Linked DNA regions of Homo sapiens. The protein of the gene in region 1 binds, or shares a complex with, the protein of each later gene. Each region holds a gene or a part of one and is shown in the gene's direction. Other genes may lie near its edges.

Region 1 (7,951 bases):
TTTTTAGTGGGAGAGACAGAGAAGTTCTAACAATTACAATATAATGTGTTAAGTAGTATAGCTGAAAGAAGCAAAAGGTGCCTTGAGAGCATAGAATAGGGATACCTGATAAGTTAAAGGGTAGGTGGTTTGTCAGGGAAAGGTCTCTTAGCAAGGGAACACTGGAGGTGAGACTTAAAGGACACTTAGGAGTTTGCATTAAAAAAGAGAATGAAAAGCATTCTAGACAGGAGGAACTGTGATGAGAAGGTCCAAGAATATTGAGAAGGATTTGAGACATAAACAGTTCCAACTGACTAAAATGACACCATGGTGGGATACGGCAGGACTCCAAGCTAGAGTTTTAAGTCAGACCATAAAAATCTGTTTTTGGGTTGGGCGCAGTGGCTCAAGCCTGTAATCTCAGCACTTTGGGAGGCTGAGGTGGGCAAATCACCTGAGGTCAAGAGTTTGAGACCAGCCTGGTCAACATGGTGAAAACCCATCTCTACTGAAAATACCCCAAAAAATTTAGCCAGGCATGGTGGTGGGTGCCTGTAATCCCAGTTACGCAGGAGGCTGAGGCAGGAGAATCGCTTGAACCCAAGAGGCAGAGGTTGCAATGAGCTGAGATTGTGCCACTGCACTCCAACCTGGGCGACAGACTGAGACTCCACCTCAAAAAAAAAAAATCTGTCTTAGGGCTTGGCACAGTGGCTCACGCCTGTAATCTCAGCACTTTGGGAGGCCAAGCCGTGCAGATCACTTGAGGTCAGGAGACTGACACAAGCCCGGCCAACATGGTGAAACCCCGTCTCTCCTAAAAATACACAAAAATTTAGTTGGGCATGGTGGCAGGTGCCTGTAATCCCAGCTACTTGGGAGGTTGAGGCAGGAGAATTGCTTGAACCTGGGAGGCGGAGGTTGCAGTGAGCCAAGATTGAGCCACTGCACTCCATCCAGGGTGACAGAGCGAGACTCTGTCTCAAAAAAATATAATCAATCAATCTGTCTTTTTAGTTCCATCCTAAAGAAATTCAACTTTATCCCAAAGCAGGGTAGTGTTTTAGTAGTTGGGCTGATTTATAAAACAGTCTCATACTTGAGCCTTGATTGGTGGAGCTATGTCAACCTGGAGGGATGTCTCTAATGCTGAACTAGAAGTCTTGGCTGGACCCAATTCTATTCAATGTTTTATCCATAATATTAATGAAGATATGATCTGCTAAGCTAAAACAGATAGCCAGTGTAAAAGAGTCAAAGATCTTTACAGGCTGAAACATGAAAGAATATATATATTTTTTGAGATGGAGTCTCACTCTGTTGCCCAGGCTAGAGTGCAGTGGCGCAATCTCGGCTCAATGCAACCTCCACCTCTCGGGTTCAAGCGATTCTCCTGCCTCAGCCTCCCAAGCAGCTGGGACTACAGGTGCACACCACCACACCCAACTAATTTTTGTATTTTTAGTAGAGACAGGGTTTCATCATATTGGCCAGGCTGGTCTAGAACTCCTGACCTCGTGATCCACCCGCCTCGGCCTCCCAAAGTGCTGGGATTACAGGCATGAGCCATCGTGCCCTCCTGAAAGACATCTTACAAGATAAAATAGTCACACTATAAAGAGCATCATGTTGAGCAAAATGGAGCTAGATGTCTTCTGAGATCCTTGTGCTTCTGGAATTCTATGACTATTTCTGAAGGACATTGGTCCTCACCTTTGTATAGTTAGGTCTTCTAACTGCTGGAAGCTCAATTACTCTGCAACCTACATTAAGCACCTAGTATACATGAAACATAATAGATATTCTAATGTGTTTTTCTGTTTTTCTCATTTTTTCATTACTTGTGTTTCTCTCTTCCTCCAGTCTGATTGAAAAATAAAGTAGAAGAATAAAAGCAAGCTGGTCAAGCCAGGTGCAGTGGCTTGCACCTGTAATCCTAGCACTTTGGTGGACTGAGGGGGGACAGATGGCTTGAGTCCAGGAGTTCAAGACCAGCCTGGCCACATAATGAAACCCTGTCTCTACAAAAAAATAGAAAAATTAGCCAGGTGTGGTGATGCATGACCATAGTCTCAGTTACTTGGGAGGCTGAAGTGGGAGGATCACCTGAGCCCAGGAGGTTGAGGTTGTAGTGAGCCAAGATCGCCCAACTGCACTGCCGCTCTTTTCTTGAGAACTTGTGTCGAAAAGGAAAAAAAAAGAGAGGCTGGGTACAGGGACTCATGCCTGAAATCCCAGCATTTTGGGAGGCCAAGGTGGGTGGATCAGCTGAGGTCAGGAGTTTGAGACCAGCCTGGCCAACATGGTGAAACCCTGTCTCTACTAAAAATACAAAAAATTAGCCAGGCATGGTGGCAGGCACCTGTAATCCCACCTACTCAGGAGGCTGAGGCAGGAGAATCGCTTGACCCTGGGAGGCGGAGGTTGCAGTGAGCCAAGATCGCACCACTGCACTCCAGCCTGGGTGACACAGCGAGACTCTGTCTCAAAAAAAAAAAAAAAAAAATTAGCCAAGTGTGGTGGTGCACACCTATTGTCCCAGCTACTCAGGAGGCTGAGGTGGGAGGATTGCTTCAGCTTGGGAGGCAGAGGTTGTAGTGAGCCGAGATCGTGCCACTGCACTCCAGCTTGGGCAACAGAACGAGACTCTGTCTCAAAAAAAAAAAAGTTTTATTGGCAAACATTACAATGTTTCAATGATTATAAAGATTTTTGCTAAATTAATACAAGGGGGAGAGATTAGAGTCTAGGATGACTTTTAGGTTTCTGGCTTGAGCAACTCAAGGTCAAGTTGGTGAACTGGAAGAAAAGGAGAGGGGGACTTGGAGGAAGTGTCAGCACTCATTATGTGACACTGCAGCCATCTCATTCAGTGATTTTTCTGTTTCTCCATAGATCAAGATGGAGATACTGAATCTGCATGATGTTTCTCCATTAGTGAACAGAGGATCATAATTAGAGTTGGAAAGGATCTTTAAAATCACTTAGTTCATACCCACATCTTCCTCTCATTCGTCCCTCAAACCAATGTTTGCACTGCCTTCACACTTTTCCTGTGAAATGACCATCCATGGAGATGAAATTGCTTACCCTCTCTCAGTTTCCACAATTGCAAAAGGCGAATATTACCTACGTCACAAGATTGAATCAGATAATATATATAAAGCATTTATTACAGTGCCTAGCAAGTGTTCAATAAATAAATCCCAAATATTAGCTTAAAAATGCTAGGACAGTACAGTGTGCAACCCATTAATAGAGTGTGAAATCAGTTTTAGTGTGCAGTGACCAGCAGTTTTTTAAAGAGAAGTAGAAACATGTAGTGTGTGTGTTATTATACGAAATATTTGTTTCCATGTAAATGTGGGTTTATATGTTATATATTTATATGTTTATATAGCATATAAATTTATACACTTACACTTATTTTTGTATGTGGATATATACATATGTTTTTTCTGGGTCACAATGTGAAATGTATTATTGTGGGTCAGGTGGAAAAAATTTTCAGAAGCATTGCAACACACAATTCTTTTCTTCCTTTGCTGATCTATGTTGAAAGTCATATATATATATATATTTTTGAGATGGAGTCTGGCTCTGTTGCCCAGGCTGGAGTGCGGTGGCATGATCTCTGCTCACTGAAACATCTGCCTCCTAGGTTCAAGTGATTTTCCTGTCTCAGCCTCCGAAGTAGCTGGGACTACAGGTGCTCCATCACCACGCTGGGGTAATTTTTTTTTTTTTTTTTTTTTTTTGAGACGGAGTTTCGCTCTTATTGCCTAGGCTGGAGTGCAATGGCACGATCTCAGCTCACCACAACCTCCGCCTCCCAGGTTCAAGCAATGCTCCCGCCTCAGCCTCCCAAGTAGCTGAGATTACAGGCGCACACCACCACGCCTGGCTAATTTTTGCATTTTTAGTAGAGGCGGAGTTTCACCATGTTGGTCAGGCTGGTCTCGAACTCCTGGCCTCGTGATCTGCCTGCCTCGGCCTCCCAAAGTGCTAGGATTACAGGCATGAGCCATCGTGCTCGGCCTAATTTTTATATTTTTTGTAGAGTTGGGGTTTAGTCATGTTGCGTCAGGCTGGTCTCGAACTCCTGACCTCAGGTGATCCGCCCGCCTCGGCTTCCCAAAGCGCTGGGATTACAGGCATGAGACACCACGCCCGGCTCTGACTTTATTTTTAAAGAGGTTATAAAGTGCTATATCTTTGTAAAATATTTTTATTTCCAGCTCCTAGCACAATATCTGGTAAATAGAAGTTGCCAAATAAACGTTGATCGAACTAGGAACAATAAATAGTATGAAGACATATGGACTAGCGGTTCTTCATATATAGACTAGTGGTTCTTTTCTGAGTGATCAGACTTCCTTTGAGAAGTTGTTGAAAGTTTTGGACCCTCTTCCCAGAAGAAGTGCCGAGCACTCAGTTCTGAACGGATTCCAGAGAATTCCTGAATCCCCGTGCATTGCCTCTCTAAGGTTCTATGGGTCCCCCAAGTTAAGAACCTGAAAGGAAGGTGTTTAACTTCTGACAGCGGAGGTGTGAGGTCAAGAGCGGAAGAAAGTTTGGGGTTAGATCACTTTTAAAATTCTCCCACAAATCCTGGGATTCTAGAATTTTGGTTCTGGGAAGGCACAGGCAAAGATTTAAAGAGTACAGTTTGGTACCACTAGTGTCAAAGAATAGTGGGAACGATTTTAACACACGTTATGCCATTTGAATGCCATGGCAATCCTGTGATGATGAAATTTAAGTTCTGAGGGGCTCAGTGGCTTGCTTGTCTAAAAGGAAGGAGCTGGTAGGCTCTGGAAATCAGAGCCTACCAGAATCACATTTCTAAATTTTTGGCGAACAAGTAGGGCAGGGCAAATAAAGTGGAGAAAGGGGCGGGGCCGCGCACGCGCACAGTTGCATTGGCGCCGACGTCTCTGCCTTTCCTCTCGCAGCCACCCTTCCTCTCAGACCAGTACGGTGGCCGACGGGAGTCAGACGCTGGGGATGAATGAAGGTGCTGGGTGCAGGTTGAAAAAGTCTCCCGCTTTTCCGTTCCTACAGTCCCGGTTCTGCCTTTGTGTGGTGCCCCCATCCTTCCCACTTTGTATCGACAACCCGGTTGGTCCCGGCGTCTGAGTTCTTGGTGTCCGAGTCGACTCGAGGCACAACTAGGGTTTGGGGTTCCGGATATCGCCTAGGCCCAACATCGGACCGCGCTCTCGATTTCTGCCGCGTCCCGCCTCTAGGACGCGGAGTCCGTGTGCGGTTCCGTGAGGCTGGAGGGTAGATCTTAAGGTATGAAGCGTCCGCTTCTCTGGCCTCAGCGCGTTCCTAGGTCCGTGTCGGAGCCTGGCCAGACTTTGCTCAGCCTGAGGGACTTATTGGTTCTAGTTGCGCCCGGGGCGAGACGGAGGAGCACGCAGGTCTTGGCTCCTCTGCTCCAGTCAGCCCGCCCCTCTGTTAAAAGAGCAGCCCCTCCCTGAAAGCAAAGCAGTTTTTACCCACGACTTTTACCCACGCTGCTGCTAGTCGGTCGGCCTTGAGAGGGGACTGCTTTGGCTGCCAGCTCACTGCCTTTTTGTTTACTTTTTGTGCCTTGGATGATTCCTGGAGACAGAGAAGTGCGCTAATGAGACGCGTCTTTCTCACATAGCACCCACACATCTGCTTTTTACCCGGTAACACAGGGGACATAGGATAGTGTTGTGGCCTCCAGAGCCTTGAATCTGGCATTGGTTCTGCCCAGTGATTTGCTAGTTTTTCCACCGACTCATGGAGGGTGAGAAAGAGAAGCCCAATAGTTCTTGATGTATATCGGGGTAGGCATGTGAAACTATCGGGGTATGAAAGAAAGCACTTAACTATGACCATTCACTTTTGTTTACATTTTGTGGAGCTCATGTGACTGATATAGTGGAGAAAGTCTTGGACTGGGATTTTAGTAGATGAGGATTCAGCCTTGGATTGTGCCTCTAACTAGTAATACTATTTTGGGCGTGTTACTTCATCTCTCTGGGCTTCATATTCCTTCTTTGTAAAATATGAGTATTAGAGCAGAAGATTCCTGAGGCTGGAAGAGACATTAATATACTCTGTTTTCTTTCCCATTTCCCAGGTGACAGTATAAACCTAGGGAGACAGAGAAGCCTTGTCTTGATTGTGCCAGGAACATTGCCAACATAGGGACCTATTAAAGATACACCACATTTTTCAGGGTTTTTAGAAAGTTGGGTGTTCATACATGTGAAAGTTAAACTCCTACTTTCATTTGTATTTTTACCATTAGGATCAACAAACAGTAATAATGACTGAATGTACAAGTCTTCAGTTTGTCAGCCCTTTTGCTTTTGAGGCAATGCAGAAGGTGGATGTTGTTTGCCTGGCATCTTTAAGTGATCCAGAATTAAGACTTCTTCTGCCCTGTTTGGTACGGATGGCACTTTGTGCACCTGCTGACCAGAGCCAAAGCTGGGCTCAGGATAAGAAACTCATCCTTCGCCTTCTTTCTGGAGTGGAAGCTGTCAACTCCATTGTTGCATTGTTGTCCGTGGACTTTCATGCTTTAGAACAAGATGCCAGCAAAGAACAGCAGCTTAGGTAATGTTATGTTATATTATATGTGGATTTGGATTTGACAAAGAACAGGGAATCAGATATTTTTTAGAGCTCTCCAGAAAAGAGAGAATGAGAATCTAAATTCTGGAGAGCATTTTACTTAGGTCTTTTCTGTATATAGTTACAGTTCCAGAATCTTTTGACTTCCATGTTATAAAATGTTATCTAGAGAAATATGGCAATGTGCTGTTGTATGTGGGCTAAACTCATTAGGCCAATTACTTTCAGTGGGAAGTAGGTAGGGTAACTTCCCCTAGATTAGAGGGATTTATTGGAATCACTTGGGAGGCTTTTTTTTTTCTTTTTTGAGACAGAGTTTCGCTCTTGTTGCCCAGGCTGGAGTGCAATGGCGTGATCTTGGCTCACTGCAACCTCAGCCTCCCAGGTTCAAGCGATCCTCCTGCCTCAGCCTCCCGAGTAGCTGGGATTACAGGCACCTGCCACCATGCCCGGCTAATTTTTTGTATTTTTAGTAGAGATGGGGTTTCATCATGTTGGCCAGGCTGGTCTCCAACTCCTGGCCTCAGGTGATCCACCTGCCTTGGCCTCCCAAAGTGCTGGGATTACAAGTGTGAGCCACTGGGCCCAGCCTCTTGGGAGGCTTTTAAAGCTTAGATATTCCCAAAGATTCTGGGCAGGTGCTATGTCCTTCCCTGCCCATTGTGAATCTAGTAGCAAGCCACCATCAGTGGAAGTGAGTGTTAATTGTCAGTTGTGGTAGAGTATTTATTTATTTATTTTTATTTTTATTTTTTTTTAGACCGAGTCTTGCCCTGTTGCCCAGGCTGGAGTGCGGTGGCGTGATCTCGGCTCACTGCAACCTCCACCTCCTGGGTTCAAGTGATTCTTCTGCCTCAGTCTCCCGAGTAGATGGGACTACAGGCACGCGCCACCATGCCCGGCTTTTTTGTATTATTAGTAGAGACGAGGTTTCACCATATTGGCCAGGCTGGTCTCGAACTCCCAACCTTGTGATCCACCTGCCTCAGCCTCCCAAAGTACTGGGATTACCGGCGTGAGCCACTGTGCCTGGCCTATGTGGTGGAGTATTTATTATACGTAGGATGTGAATCCCTGAAATACACAGGCAAACTAAATAGCATTTCAGAAGTAACAGAACATTTTAGAACACTTTATACATCCTTTTATAGCTTATTTCAATAAAAGATAATTTTTATGCAATTATTTCCATATCAGTGTTTTCATAATTGTTACATGTTTTGTACTTCATTAGGCATAAACTTGGAGGAGGCAGTGGAGAGAGCATCCTGGTATCACAGCTTCAGCATGGACTGACGTTAGAGTTTGAACACAGTGATTCACCTCGTCGATTGCGTCTTGTGCTTAGTGA
Region 2 (7,858 bases), on another chromosome or scaffold:
GCTGGAGTGCAATGGTGCGATCTTGGCTCGCTGCAGCCTCCATCTCTCAGGTTCAAGTGATTCTCGTGCCTCAGCCTCCGGAGTAGCTGGGACTACAGGCACCTGCCACCACGCCCGGCTATTTTTTTGTATTTTTAGTAGAGATGGGGTTTCACTGTGTTATCCAGGATGGTCTCGATCTCCTGACCTCGTGATCCGCCCGCCTCAGCCTCCCAAAGTGCTGGGATTACAGGTGTGAGCCACTGCGCCCGGCCTTGGATAATTTTTTTCTATTTTTAGTAAAGGCAAGGTTTCGCCATGTTGGCCAGGCTGGTCTCGAACTCCTGACCTCAAGCAATCCGCCCGCCTCAACCTCCCCAAGTGCTGGGATGACAGGCGTGAGCCACCGCACAGGCCTAATGAAGGTAAAGATCTTGAGATGAGATCATCCTTGATCTGGGTGGGCCCTAAATCCCTTAACAGATGTCCTCACGAGGCACAGAGACACAGAGAGAAGACGGCCACATGGAGTCAGAGGCAGAGGCTGGAGGGATGTGGCCACGAGCCGAGGACCCCTGGAGTCCCCAGGAGCTGGTCGAGGTAGGCAGCGTCCTCCCCTAGAGCCCTCCGAGGGAGTCAGCCCTGCCCACACTTTGACTTCAGACTTCTGGGCTCCAGAACTGCAAGAGAGGACATTTCTGTGGCTTTAAGCCACCGAGTCTGTGGTGCTTTGTTAAGAGCTGCTGTGGGAAACAACCACAGGTGTTCATTTTACTGTTCGGGTGATAAGCAGAGTCTTTGGAGAATTCTGAGCAGGGGAGGAACATTTGATTATATCTTTTTGTTTTTTTGTTTTTTTTGAGATGGAATCTCGCTCTGTTGGCCAGACTGGAGTGCAGTGGTACGATCTTGGCTCACTGCCACCTCCACCTCCTGGGTTCAAGTGATTCTCCTGCCTCAGCCTCCCAAGTAGCTGGGACTAAAGGCACCCGCCACCACGCCTGGCTAATTTTTGTATTTTTAGTAGACATGGGGTTTACTATGTTGGCCAAGCTGGTCTCAAACTCCTGATCTCAGGTGATCCGCCTGCCTCAGCCTCCCAAAGTGCTGGGATTAAAAGCCACGGCACCCGGCCTAAAAATTAAATTTCTAATAATTTTTTTTTTTTTGAGACAGAGTCTCACTCTTGTCGCCCAGGCTGGAGGGCAATGGCATGATCTTGGTTCACTGCAACCTCCGCCTCCCACGTTCAAGTGATTCTCCTGCCTCAGCCTCCCAAGTAGCTGGATTACAGGTGTCTGCTACCATGCCCGGCTAATTTTTGTATTTTTGTAGAGACCGGGTTCCACCATGTTGGGCAGGCTGGTCTTGAACTCCTGACCTCAGGTGATCCACCCGCCTCGGCTTCCCAAAGTGCTGGGATTACAGGCGTGAGCCATCGCGCCTGGCCATAAAAAATATTTTCAAAAAGTGAGCAAACAATTTGAACAGACACCAATAATGCAGATACACGGATGACAAAAAAAGATGAGAAAACGCTCATCATTACTCATCAGGGAGACGCCGATGAAGAGCACAGGGCAGACCCTGCACACCCCCCCAGGATGACGGAACGCCTGTGGTCCTGCCCGGGCCATCAGTGGAGAAGCCATCCTTGGAATCTGGAATCCATCTGGCGGGTGCTACTCAGCAGCTGACAGAAGCCACCGATGCCTGCAACGCTGGGGTAAGTCTCAGAATAATGATGCCAGGCCGGGCGCGGTGGCTCACGCCTGTAATCCCAGCACTTTGGGAAGCCGAGGCGGGAGGATCACGAGGTCAGGAGATCAAGACCGTTGTGGCTAACACGGTGAAATCCCGCCTCTACTAAAAATACAAAAAAAAAAAAAAATTAGCCGGGCGTGGTGGCCAGCGCCTGTAGTCCCAGCTACTCGGGAGGCTGAGGCAGGAGAATGGCGTGAACCCAGGAGGCAGAGGTTGCAGTGAACGGAGATCGCGCCACTGCACTCCAGCCTGGGTGACAGAACGAGATTCCATCTCAAAAAAAAAAAAAGAATAATGACGCCGAGCAGCTGGCCAGGGAGCGTGCACTGTGTGCTTTCATTCACACAGACTCCAGAAGAGCAAACAGCGCCTCTCCAGGGACAGAAAGTGGCGCCCTGGCGGCCTGGGGACAAGTCAGGGGTGGTTTGGGAATGTTCGTTACAGGGTTGAAAGGGATGGGGGATGGGGCCACAGGTACGTGTGAATGTCAACACGCATCAGTGTGCACCCTTTACACCCTTTACACACCTGCAGTTTATCAGACGTCAATCATAACTCAAAAAAGCTGTTTTCAAAAAGAGGCGGGGAGAGGGAGGAGGAAGGCAAAGAGGTAGAGGAGGGGGAGGAAGAGGAAGAGGGGAAGGAGACGGAGGAGAAAGAGAAGAGGGAGGAGGAGGTGGTCAAGGTTGACTCCTGAGTTTTTAGAGAACGAGGAAGACGAGGAGCAGGAGGAGAGAGAAGGGGGAAGAGGTGGTCAAGGTTGACAGGAGGAGGAGGAGGAGGAGGAGGAGGAGGGGGAGGAGGGGAGGAGGGGGAGGAGGAGAAGAAGGGGAACGAAGGGGAGGGGGGAGGGGGAGGAGGGGGAGGGGAAGGAGGGGAGGGGGAGGGGGAGGAGGAGAGGAGGGGGGAGGGGGAGGAGGGGGAGAAGAAGGAAGGGGAGGAGGGGGAGGAGGAGGGGGAGGGGGAGGGGGAGGGGGAGGAGGAGGTAGTTGTTCTCAAGGTCGACCCTGAGGTTCTGGCCTGGGCCCGGGTGAGGGCATTTGCCGAAGGCACAGGCCCCGCATGCAGGGGCGGTGATGCTGGTCAGAGGATGAGGAGAGGCAGGTGGCGGGGCAGAGGAAGCTCTGTGCAGGGTGCTCCCATTCAGGTGACAGGAGGAGGAAGCATTACCCCATCGGATCTCCCCTCCCCTTAGAGAGTTACCCTGAGGGACAGATTGAGAAACTGTAGAGGGATGAAGCCGCACAGCCCCCGCCTGGCGTCCGGCAGGGATCCGCGCCTGACCGGCCTCTCCTCCCATGGGCACCACGGACGTCTCCTTCCGGACTCGCTGCCCACACAGCGCAGGGTGCAGGGCCCTGGAGCCCTTGGGGTCCTGCGGGGACCCAGCTGGTGCCCACAGGAGTGGAAAGAGACCGTGGCGGGTCACACAGCAGTTCTCAGGCTGCAGCCTGGGGCCATGAGCCTCACTGAGGCCACAGTCAAATGGCCACACCCAACTTCAGGGGCACAGGGAGACCAGCTCTGCCTTGCGGTCCCTGGATGAGGAGATGGGACACACCGGGCAGGCGGTGCTCAGGACTCCCTCGGTGGCGGGGCAGCGTTCGAGTCAGTGCCCTGCTGGGAACAGATCTCCAAGATGTGGTTAAGTGGCAAAAGCCAGGTGCAGAAAAGAGGAGCCGTGCGCTACCTGCAGGGTGACAAGGCAGAGGGAGGCACACGGGTGGCTGCCTGAACGCACACGGAAAAGCCGGGAACACAGGCACAAATCAGAACACAGGCTGACTCCAGGGGAGGGGACCAGCTGCTCAGGGGTCAGGGGAGACCTTCGACCCTTTGACTGGATGATTCCCCCACCTTTTATTTTTATTTTTTTTTAGACAGGGTCTCGCTCTGTCGGCCGGCTGCAGCGTAGTGGCACCATCATAGCTTACTGCAGCCTTGACCTCCCAAGCTGAAGAGATCCTCCTACCTCAGCCTCCTCAGTAGCTGGGACCGTAGGCATGCACCACCATGCCTGGCTAATTTATTCTTGATTTTTGTTTGTAGAGATAGGGTCTCACTATGTTGCCCAGGCTGGTCTCAGACTCCCACTTTGGCCTCCCAAAGGGCTGGGATTAGAGGTTCATGCCACCATGCCCAGCTAATTTTTATTTTTTTGTAGAGATGGGGGTCTTGCTATGTTGCTCAGGCTGGTCTCGAACTCAACCGATCCTCCTGCCTTGGTCTCCCAAAGTGCTGAGATTACAGGCATGAGCATCACACCTGGCAACTGTATGATCTTTTGTGTCTTTTGAGTTTTGTTCCCATCAGTGTTTCCATTAAAAAAAAAAAAAAAAAGGCGTGGGGGCGGGGCGGGCGCAGTAATTCCAGCACTTTGGGAGGCCAAGGCGGGCGGACCACCTGAGGTCAGGAGTTCGAGACCAGCCTGGCCAACATGGTGAAACCCCGTCTCTACTAAAAACACAAAAAAATTAGCCAGACATGGTGGCGGGCGCCTGTAATCCCAGCTACTCGGGAGACTGAGGCAGGAGAATCGCTTGAACCTGGGAGGTGGAGGTTGCAATAAGCCGAGGTCGCGCCACTGCATTCCAGCCTGGGCGACAGAGCGAGACTCCGTGCCAAAAAAAAAAAGAAAAAAGAAAAGGGTGAACTTTGTGGAACACGAGTTCTATCTCAATAAAGCTATTATTATTATTATTATTATTATTTGAGACAGGGTCTCTCCCCGGGAGCCCCCCGGGCTGCGCCCCCTCGCCAGTGCCTGCGCCCCGGCCGCCCCCGCTCTCCGGGACGTGCAGAACCTGCCACTTGACTCATCCGCGGATCCCTGACGCCACTCCTCCCCGCCGTGCGTCCTGGAGTGCGTCCCTTCGCAACGCCAGCACCACCTGTGAATGGAGAGGCCAGCGCCTGCCCCGCGCCGCCGACCCACCTGGACCGGACCACATGCGCGCGGCGCCGGCCAGCCCGCCTCCCGCCGCCATGGGGCGCTGCAGGCATCAGGCCGGCGCCGCGGGCCTCTCGCGCCTCCTTCTGGGCCCGCTTCCCGCCGCACTGTTTTCCTTCCGGTTGTTCCGGAAGTCGGGTCCTCGAGGGCGGTGAGATCGGTTTCCGATTCCGGGGTGGCCGGGTGGCGGCGGCGGCGCTCCGGTCGCGATGGGCCAGAGGTAAGTGAGCCGCGGCCTGGGCGCTTCCTCATTGCCGGGCGAGCGCCTGGTTCTCCCGGCTACCGCTCCCGGCCTCTGGGCCGTCCCTTCTGGTTCTGCCGCCTCCAGCCCGGCGTCCGCGTCGCCTGCTGCCGCCCGACTGAGCCGCTCCCGGGCGGCTGGGAGGCGGGGTCCCTGCAGCTCCTGCAGCATCGCCCCGCCGGGCGGGCGCGGGACCACTGTCCCCGGGTCCCAGGCCCAAGCCCCGTGCGGCAAGGGAGCGAATGAGCGAGCGAACGAGCGAATGAGTGAAGGAATGACCGCACGCTGGCTCCTCCGCAGGTGACGCCGCAGCCGCCGGGAGCCGCGAGGGACGGGGCAGGATGAACCGGGCCAAGCCCACCACGGTGCGCCGGCCCAGCGCCGCGGCCAAACCCTCAGGTGCGTCTCCCTCCTCGCTCTGCAGCCCGGGGGTCTTTGGGGGTCTTTGGGGGTCTTTGGGGATCTCAGCTGCCGCGGATCCTGCGTTGGGCTTGGTTGTTCCGCAGCCGCGGCTGTTTCCAGGAATTCGGTCTGGAAACACTGCTCTCGGTCCTCAGCGGCTCTGAGAGTCCCTGGGAGGCTTGGGACAGTGGCGACTTCCTTCGGGACCCCGGTGATCTCGTTTCAGGCTGAGCTGCAAGGCGGCCGACAGTAGCGGAAGGTCTCCCCAGCCAGGAGGCGGGAGGCAGCACAGTGTAGCGTAGCACGGGGTCTGCGGCTGAACTGTCGGCTCAGATCCTCCGGACTTTGCCACTCGCCTGCTGTGTGACGCTGGGCACGTCGCTTAACCTCTCTGTGTCCCTTTCTCTCTTGTAAAGTTAGAGTAATAGCACCTATTGCGGAAACTCGGGGCGGGGGTTACTAAGCACACTAATTTGGATAGACCAGAGATGGCCTGGTTTGTGGTTAGCGCTACGTGACTGTCCACCATCACCTGTGCGTATCCTGCTGGTCCCAGCTCTGCTGTAGGCTGCTGAGTGAGCTCTGGCTTCTTCCTTGCCTCCTCTGACCCTTGTTTAATCCCCTCTGACATAACAGGAGGTTAGAGTCAGTCTTTTTCCATCTTGGGTGTTGCAAATGTGCCCGGTTTTCTCTCTCCTTTCTCTGCAGGGCACCCTCCCCCAGGAGACTTCATTGCTCTGGGCTCAAAGGGTCAGGCCAATGAATCGAAAACGGCGTCCACCCTGCTGAAGCCAGCCCCTTCCGGCCTGCCTTCTGAGCGCAAGCGGGATGCGGCGGCCGCGTTGTCCAGTGCCTCGGCCCTCACCGGTCTCACCAAACGCCCCAAACTCTCCTCCACACCCCCTCTGAGTGCCCTGGGGCGCCTGGCTGAGGCTGCAGTGGCAGAAAAACGAGCCATTTCTCCGTCGATTAAAGAGCCATCTGTGGTGCCAATTGAAGGTAATGAGTCTGTGGACATCCCCCGAGAACACCCCTCAGCTCATGCCGTCCATCAGGTGTTCAGGGAAGGCCCCCTCCAGGCCTAGTGCTGCCCGTATGGCCGAGGTCCTTTGGGAGAGCGGATGTTTGTGGCTTGTTCTTGGAAGTGCTTCTCACGTAGATGCCCTTATCCCGTGTGTGCATCTGCGTCCTGCACTGCCAGTGGCTGCCCTTTGAGAACCGGGTCACTCCCTTATTGAGTTGTTTGTCTCATGTGTCTGTTGGACGCCCCCTTTGTGACGGGCACTGTCTGAGCCCTGGGGGTAAACCGGGCGTGACGACACCCCAGGTGTCTGTTCTCAAGGTTGCCCATCCTGGTGCGTTCCTCTCTCAACCTGAGCGGAGGCGATGTGTACTTGGTTCCTCCTTCCCTCCTGGTTACCAACAGAGAAGAGTTGATCCCCTCCCTGTTTTCAGTTGAAAAGCAGCAGAACAGTAAGGACATCAACGGGGGAATGTAAGCTTCACCACTGTCCCGTTCTCGCAGAAATGCCTTTAACTGTGTGCCTAGAATCGCCCCTGCCCCTCTGCGCCATTTTCCCAACGACCATTTCTCAAGGCTCCGTGACTCCCTGGGAGTCGCTCTGGCAGCTATCGCACCAGCCCCAGCAAGCCTCATGGTCTGCAGTGTTTTGTTTCTGTGGGAGCATCTCTTTTGGGTAATTTCTTTGTAGGAGTCAAAAAGAACAAGTGTCCTGATGACTTTGGTAGTGAGGTGTCTGTTCAAGCCGCGCCACCTCTGGTTACTGAGTTTTGTGCCAGACAGGACCCAGGGGACTTGTGGGCTGTGGCCTTGCCCTCAGGGAGGGACCAGGCTGCTGCAGTGCAAGCCTGTGAGTGAGTCCCCGACGGCCCTGGAAGGGAGGAGGCCTGGCAGGGAGTTGCAGTATGGGCTTGGGCCTGGAAGCACAGGCGATGAAACCGGGGCAGGCAGGAAAGGGAGATGCCAAGCAGAGAATGGACTGTGCCCAGGGAATGGAGGCCTGGCCTGGCCTGGGCAGCACACGCTCATGAGAGCTGAGGCTGGGCGCTGTGGGCAGTGTTTGTGCTGGACTCAGTTGGCATCAGGGAGCCCTGGGGGCAAACGGCCCAGGATGGCACAGCTGGGGGACTGCTTTAGGAGGTCGAGCCTCAGACCTCCCATGAGGCGTGTCCCTGGGCAGCTGGTGCCGGTGGGGATTGAAGACAGAGACCACAGGCCTCATCCTGGCCCGGGCTCTCGGCCGCCGGCGGCTCGGTGCTTTATTTATCTTTAGCACTACCTCCTGTAGAAAGGAGGTTTTGAAGATGAGAGGAGACGTGGTTATGAAAAGCGTATTCTGAGTGGTAGATCACTTTATAGTATTATTCTCAGCAAAACAGAGAGATGGCTGCATCCAGCCATTTGTGGTAAATGTCCCAGGCTGTCCCTCCATGCTGGCAGCCCACTTGTCCCCCAGCTTGTCTCGGCATCAGGAAATTTATTCCAAGTCTCTGTCCCGGGC
Region 3 (4,981 bases), on another chromosome or scaffold:
GGGACAAACTATAATACTGTACTAGGATAATAATTTGCTAATCTTTCAACATATTTTATATTGTCGTAGTATTGATTTTTCTATTTTCATTTCACTTTGAAAAATCTTCCCAAAATTTTCTCTCCTTTCTTAAAAAAATTATACTGATATATACTATTCATTAAAAAGTAATTGAGAGTACTATTTATTTTTTCATACAGGTTTAAAAAACGAATGCTAATAGAACAACTGGAGAACTTCTTGGATGAAATTCATCGAAGAGCCAATCAGATCAACCATATTAATAGCAATTAAAAGAAAATAGAATGTGGCCACTTATTTCACTATCTTCTTCAAATACAAAGTAAATACAAGACTGTTGTGATCTTGCATTCATTTTCTGACATGCATTGTTGGCTATTTGAAATACTAAAAGCAAATCTACAGATCCTTTTTCCATCATTTTACAGTGACCTTTTCTTCATTTTGGTTTATTTTTGTAATGTGAAAAGTATCACTCTAAAAAACATTTTTAATTTAACAAACTAAAAATATTCCTCCAAATCTCTTGCTTGTCATTGACTCTTGCGTGTCAATTTCCCTCAGGTTCTATTTTCTTAAACCAACCTTTAAAATTGTCACCTCTGTTAAGGTTGAACTTTGCCAAAAAAAAAAGAAGTTACTTTGTAATTTTTGGGGAAAAAAGCACATACATTAAAACTAGGTAATGTTTTGTATATACAGTTATTTTGGATATATTATTGTAAGTTGTACAAATGTATTTTGAAGAATATTTAAGAAAAGCACTTTTGTTATTCCATCAATAAATGCTCTATTTTACTCTTGTGTGGTTTAGGAAATAATCACATTTAAAGTAATCATTTAAAAACATCCTAAGATAATGGAATTTTAAAGGCCTTGCTTTTTAGCATTGGAAAAATACACCACTTGAAGTTCATGTTTGTTAAGCCTAACTGTAATTACATGTTACATAATCTGCATTGCCTTTTTACTATATGTTCGTAGTTTTTGTTGGCCATGCCAACATACTCCCATTTCTGCCTAGATTATGGGAATGACTTTGTATGGGGCAGATAGACAGATACTTTAAAAGCTATTTAAAAAGCAAACAACTTTGGATATTATTGGTTTCCTTACTTCAACACCTTTTCCTTTATCACTAGGATTGTGGATGGCACGAAGCTGAAGCTGTTAGGGAGTGGTAGGTTTGGAGTACAGTACATGCTCTGAAATATCTAGCCTTTAGCAGCTTCATGCCATGCTTGCAAAAGCCCACAACAAATTGGAGGCCTCCTTGTTCTGCTCTGCTGTTCTCACACTTAAACTCTGTTTTATTTATAAGCTAAATGGAAAGGAAACACCTTTAAGATGACTTTGCTCATTTTGCATCCCCCCTGAGTTTCACAGGATAAGGAAAACCACGCTATTCATTCTCCACCCTCAATTCAACATGGCCTAGAGTATCCGTACTGAGGAAGCAATCTTATGGCCTGACTCACTCACCATTCATGATCACTGCTGTGCCTTTTAGTGGTTTGGGGGGTAAGCAGTAGAAAAGAAGGTCAAAATAGATTTGGATTAAGAGTAGGCAAAATAAACTTATAACATTTAAAAACTGAAGTATTTTTAGGTTTATAATATTGAAAATCACATACCCTTAGCTTTTTACACTTTATCAGACATTTTTTTAAATTTCAAGGGTATAGCAAAATGAAATTATAACTTTATGAAGAAAAGCATTGATGAAAGTGGAGAACATGCATTTAGTCTAGGGGATTTGAAACTCTCCCAATACTGAAGACAAACCCTGTCAAGAAAAAGAAGAATTTAATATTATATAGTATTTTCATATGCAGTTCTTTAAGCTTTGTTTACTTCTATACAAATACTTTTAAGTAATGCAAGATAACATTTAATAGATGGAATTGTTAAGGTAATTGCCTGTAGTCACATTGCTAAATTCATTGAGAGTTACACAAAATCCAGAATATATTGTCTGTTCCTAAATTATATATATTTAGATTCTGGAATTACTAGGAGGAATTAGAAGTCATTCAGATAAAAATTCATACTTAACAAGAGTATCTAGGAAAGAGATTCAGCCCATCCCAATATTGAGCAGCTTTCCTTATCAGAAAGTTTTATTTTCTGTTTCACAGATTGCTCATGACCTTTAATACATTTTTCTGAATGAACCCTGGAGGGAGGTGAGAAGTAGCAGTTTTGTTCATCTCTTCTTTTTGTCCTTTATCTCTCTGCCACTGTTCTCACCTCATCCTAAAACCTGGTCAGGAGGGTTTGAAACCTATCAGAACTAAAGGTTAATATCTCATCTCCCTCAGGCTTTTTTCATTTAAAAAAAAAATGGGTATATTAGTTAAATTAGAATACTTGTTGTAGAATTATTGTCAAAGGGGAAGGGAAATACATCTAGGGGAAACATCATGTCTTTTAGGCCCTTTATGTCACTGAATGACTTAAGGCTCGACAAATGATATTCTTGGAAAGTTTAATCTTGAGGTTTTCAAATCTTTTTTTTTAATGTCTCCCATGTTTCTCATTTGCTGATTGATTCATTAGTTGCTCTTAGTAAGATTTGTCAGTTGGAAATAATGAAGGCTGAGACTCATTTCTAAACTCTTCCATAACCATCACCAGAAGAGCAGCCACTGTGTTGTGTGATGTAGGCTAATGCCTCCCAGATAGAGGTAAAGTCACAAGGACTATTAGAATTCCAGTGGATTGTGGAACTGGTTTTGGATTATCCTTATATTTTCATTCTGATTACTGAGGCAGTTCTGAAAACTCCTACCATTGAAATAGTGGTGTGTCTTTTCCTTGTTTAAGGATTTTACATCATTTTTATGCACTTGAATTCCAAAATCAGAATCTCTCTTTTACCTATCAACCTTTATTGGCTATTGGCTTTTGGCAATGACCTTTCTGTTCAAATGTAGTCCTGTCTCTTTGTTTCCTTAGGGAGTAGAACCTGTCCTTTTTCTCATCTTTCATTTTTTTGACGTGTCCTTTCTAAGAGAAGGCTCTCTGCCGCCTGTTCTGGGTGATAAGTGATATTTTCATCTAATCGTTATGTGGTTGGGATGATCATGGTGAAATACTAGGAAGACATACTCTGTTGATGGACTTTTTCTCTCCAAATAATCCCAAATAGATTATTTTCTAGTGAATGGTTTATATCTTTCTCGTCACAAAAATGTTCCTTTGATTTCTAGCACAAGGTACAGCAGGATGCAAATGATTCTCAGATAAAATGATGTTGACAGTATTTCCTTAACAATTTATGTAAAACTATGCATAATTTTCATTCTAACTTTTGACATTTTTCTCCATAAATAAAAGTAATGCCTGATGTTTAGTTAAAGTAGATCCACCTTTGCTTGATTTTATTAGTCTTGTTCTATCCTATTTCTTTTTAATACACTGTTTAGACTTGCCAACAACTCTTAACTGAGAATCTCTTTTCCTTCCTAGGCTAAGTAATTGTGAGTGGGGGAGGAAGAACATTAAGAGAAATAATCTAAAGACTTTGTTCAATATTGTCGAAGCCTAAGAATATTTGTGTGTCCTTCTGATGTACTGAGGCTTTGCCGGTACCACACCATCTTTGGATTACCATAAGGTTATGTAGTAGGACTTAAAAGTACTAGGGCAAACATTTGATTTTTGAGAAAGATCAACAGAACAGTATAGAAATCCAGGTGCATTCATTAGAATACTAGGATCACAAGAGGACTACTCTGGTGTACTCTAGTGACCTGAAAAAACTCTAAAATGATAAGAAAGCTAGGGGACAAAGGGAAAAAAGGGCAAGATTTATAATTTATTTTACTTTCATGATTTTTCCAAGTGTCTTCAGAAGTAGAAACCTATAGCATTAAAAAAAAAAATCTACATTAACTATATATGAGCTGAGAGAATGAGAAGGTAAAAAACATGGAGGATAAGTTTCCTTTGTACTTACGAAATAGTCCCCTTTCTTAGGATAGAAGATAGCAACTGGGTAGCTTCTGAAGCACCATAAAAACAGCTAGAAAGAATGCTTATTTTTGAGGGGATAGTGGACAAATGAGCCCTTGTTGCTAGAGAGACACTGATAAATTATCTGAATCCTGTCAAAAAATACTGTAATACCTGTGTTAGGTTCTCTCAGGAAATAGATGAATGGCCGATCTGCTTTAAAAATAGGAATCCGAGACCTTTTCAATAACAACAGAGCTGCAGGAAAGAAAGAAAAATTCCATTGCATTTTCTGTGCATTTTTAAGAAAATAACTATTGGTTATGAAGTAAGTTAATTTTTTAAGAAATCAAAGCATCCTAATGGCATTTGATTGTTTACTGTTGTGATGGGGGTGCAGATGGGAAAATTAAAGAGAAAAGATGCCATTTAGCCAATCCTGTCTCCTGTTTTCAACACATTCCATGGAATAAATTCCTTATTGAAGGTAACTTTCAGAATTATTTTTATGGGATGGATATCTCTTCTTCCCCGTCATTTTTCAAAAACTTTTTGTTTTCTTTAGTGTTCCTTTTTAAAAAATACTACACCACACCTGAACTTGGGGGTTATGGAAAGATTCAGAAGTGTGAAGATTCAACTAGGTAAATTTCAGAAAGGTAGATATGGGTAAGCAGTGTGACTGGGTATTCTCTGAACATACCTGTGGCTCCAGATGCCTTGGTGCCTTCCTCCAAAACTTCAATCTTGGCCTTGTGGATTGCTTCAGAAACATAAAAGCCATCTTGGCCTAACCACAGAAAATGATAAAAATGTGAGTTGCTCATTAACATTTTTCTAACACATTTAGAACACATTCTTTAAAAATGTACTTACAAAATTTATAGTATCCAATGCTGCTTACTGTGTAGCTAGGGAAAGAGTGGAAAATTCTGTTTTTGTTTTTACTGGAGGCTCAGGTAGCTGTTTGGAAAATTCTTAAGACTCAATATGTTACCAAACT

What was found.
Region 2: the proteins of INTS2 (region 1) and INTS1 are in contact, whole or in part, in a cryo-EM structure (PDB 8RC4), measured with the Homo sapiens proteins. Residues at the interface, in NP_065799.2 of Homo sapiens: Pro40, Leu54, Lys69, Leu72, Arg73, Leu75, Ser76, Gly77, Val78, Glu79, Val81, Asn82, Val85, Gly125, Thr127, Leu128, Glu131, His132, Glu166, Val172, Tyr173, Glu176, Arg322, Gln325, Gln326, Arg329, Gly400, Lys402, Thr769, Met772; in NP_001073922.2 of Homo sapiens: Gly561, Ile562, Ala563, Trp564, Asp565, Lys566, Gly567, Ser982, His1055, Met1056, Thr1058, Pro1060, Glu1095, Arg1096, Thr1098, Ile1099, His1102, Leu1107, Arg1225, Ser1250, Phe1251, Gly1252, Ile1253, Tyr1285, His1288, Glu1291, Val1292, Gln1293, Glu1295, Arg1296.
Region 3: the proteins of INTS2 (region 1) and INTS6 are in contact, whole or in part, in a cryo-EM structure (PDB 8RBZ), measured with the Homo sapiens proteins. Residues at the interface, in NP_065799.2 of Homo sapiens: Ile855, Asp856, Pro857, Leu858, His895, Arg923, Glu925, Leu926, Lys927, Ala929, Leu930, Ala932, Ala933, Gln934, Ser936, Ala937, Gln940, Ile941, Glu944, Asn1010, Lys1013, Leu1014, Phe1017, Gln1018, Gly1019, Tyr1020, Pro1021, Ile1046, Ala1047, Gln1048; in NP_036273.1 of Homo sapiens: Ile484, Val486, Arg487, Ser488, Arg489, Phe527, Gln528, Val529, Ala530, Leu531, Leu532, Asn533, Phe541, Arg542, Asn543, Ala544, Tyr545, Ile547, Arg549, Leu552, Leu553, Leu556, Met559, Arg560, Asn562, Leu563, Leu564, Lys565.

What each region holds. Positions count from the first base shown.
Region 1 is NC_000017.11:61,924,983-61,932,933, reverse strand, and holds the start of INTS2 (integrator complex subunit 2), read left to right. Parts: upstream 1-4,951; 5' UTR 4,952-4,993; coding exon of another isoform or gene 4,994-4,999; 5' UTR 5,000-5,280; intron 5,281-6,271; coding exon of another isoform or gene 6,272-6,289; coding exon 6,290-6,582; intron 6,583-7,834; coding exon 7,835-7,951. UniProt on the Homo sapiens protein: Component of the integrator complex, a multiprotein complex that terminates RNA polymerase II (Pol II) transcription in the promoter-proximal region of genes.
Region 2 is NC_000007.14:1,501,378-1,509,235, reverse strand, and holds the start of INTS1 (integrator complex subunit 1), read left to right. Parts: upstream 1-4,846; 5' UTR 4,847-4,913; intron 4,914-5,234; 5' UTR 5,235-5,275; coding exon 5,276-5,333; intron 5,334-6,044; coding exon 6,045-6,335; intron 6,336-7,858. UniProt on the Homo sapiens protein: Component of the integrator complex, a multiprotein complex that terminates RNA polymerase II (Pol II) transcription in the promoter-proximal region of genes.
Region 3 is NC_000013.11:51,361,065-51,366,045, reverse strand, and holds the end of INTS6 (integrator complex subunit 6), read left to right. Parts: intron 1-200; coding exon 201-294; 3' UTR 295-1,763; coding exon of another isoform or gene 1,764-1,807; 3' UTR 1,808-4,048; coding exon of another isoform or gene 4,049-4,236; 3' UTR 4,237-4,469; downstream 4,470-4,981. Other genes in the region: SERPINE3 (serpin E3 isoform 2 precursor), read right to left, coding at 4,049-4,236, 4,682-4,768. UniProt on the Homo sapiens protein: Component of the integrator complex, a multiprotein complex that terminates RNA polymerase II (Pol II) transcription in the promoter-proximal region of genes.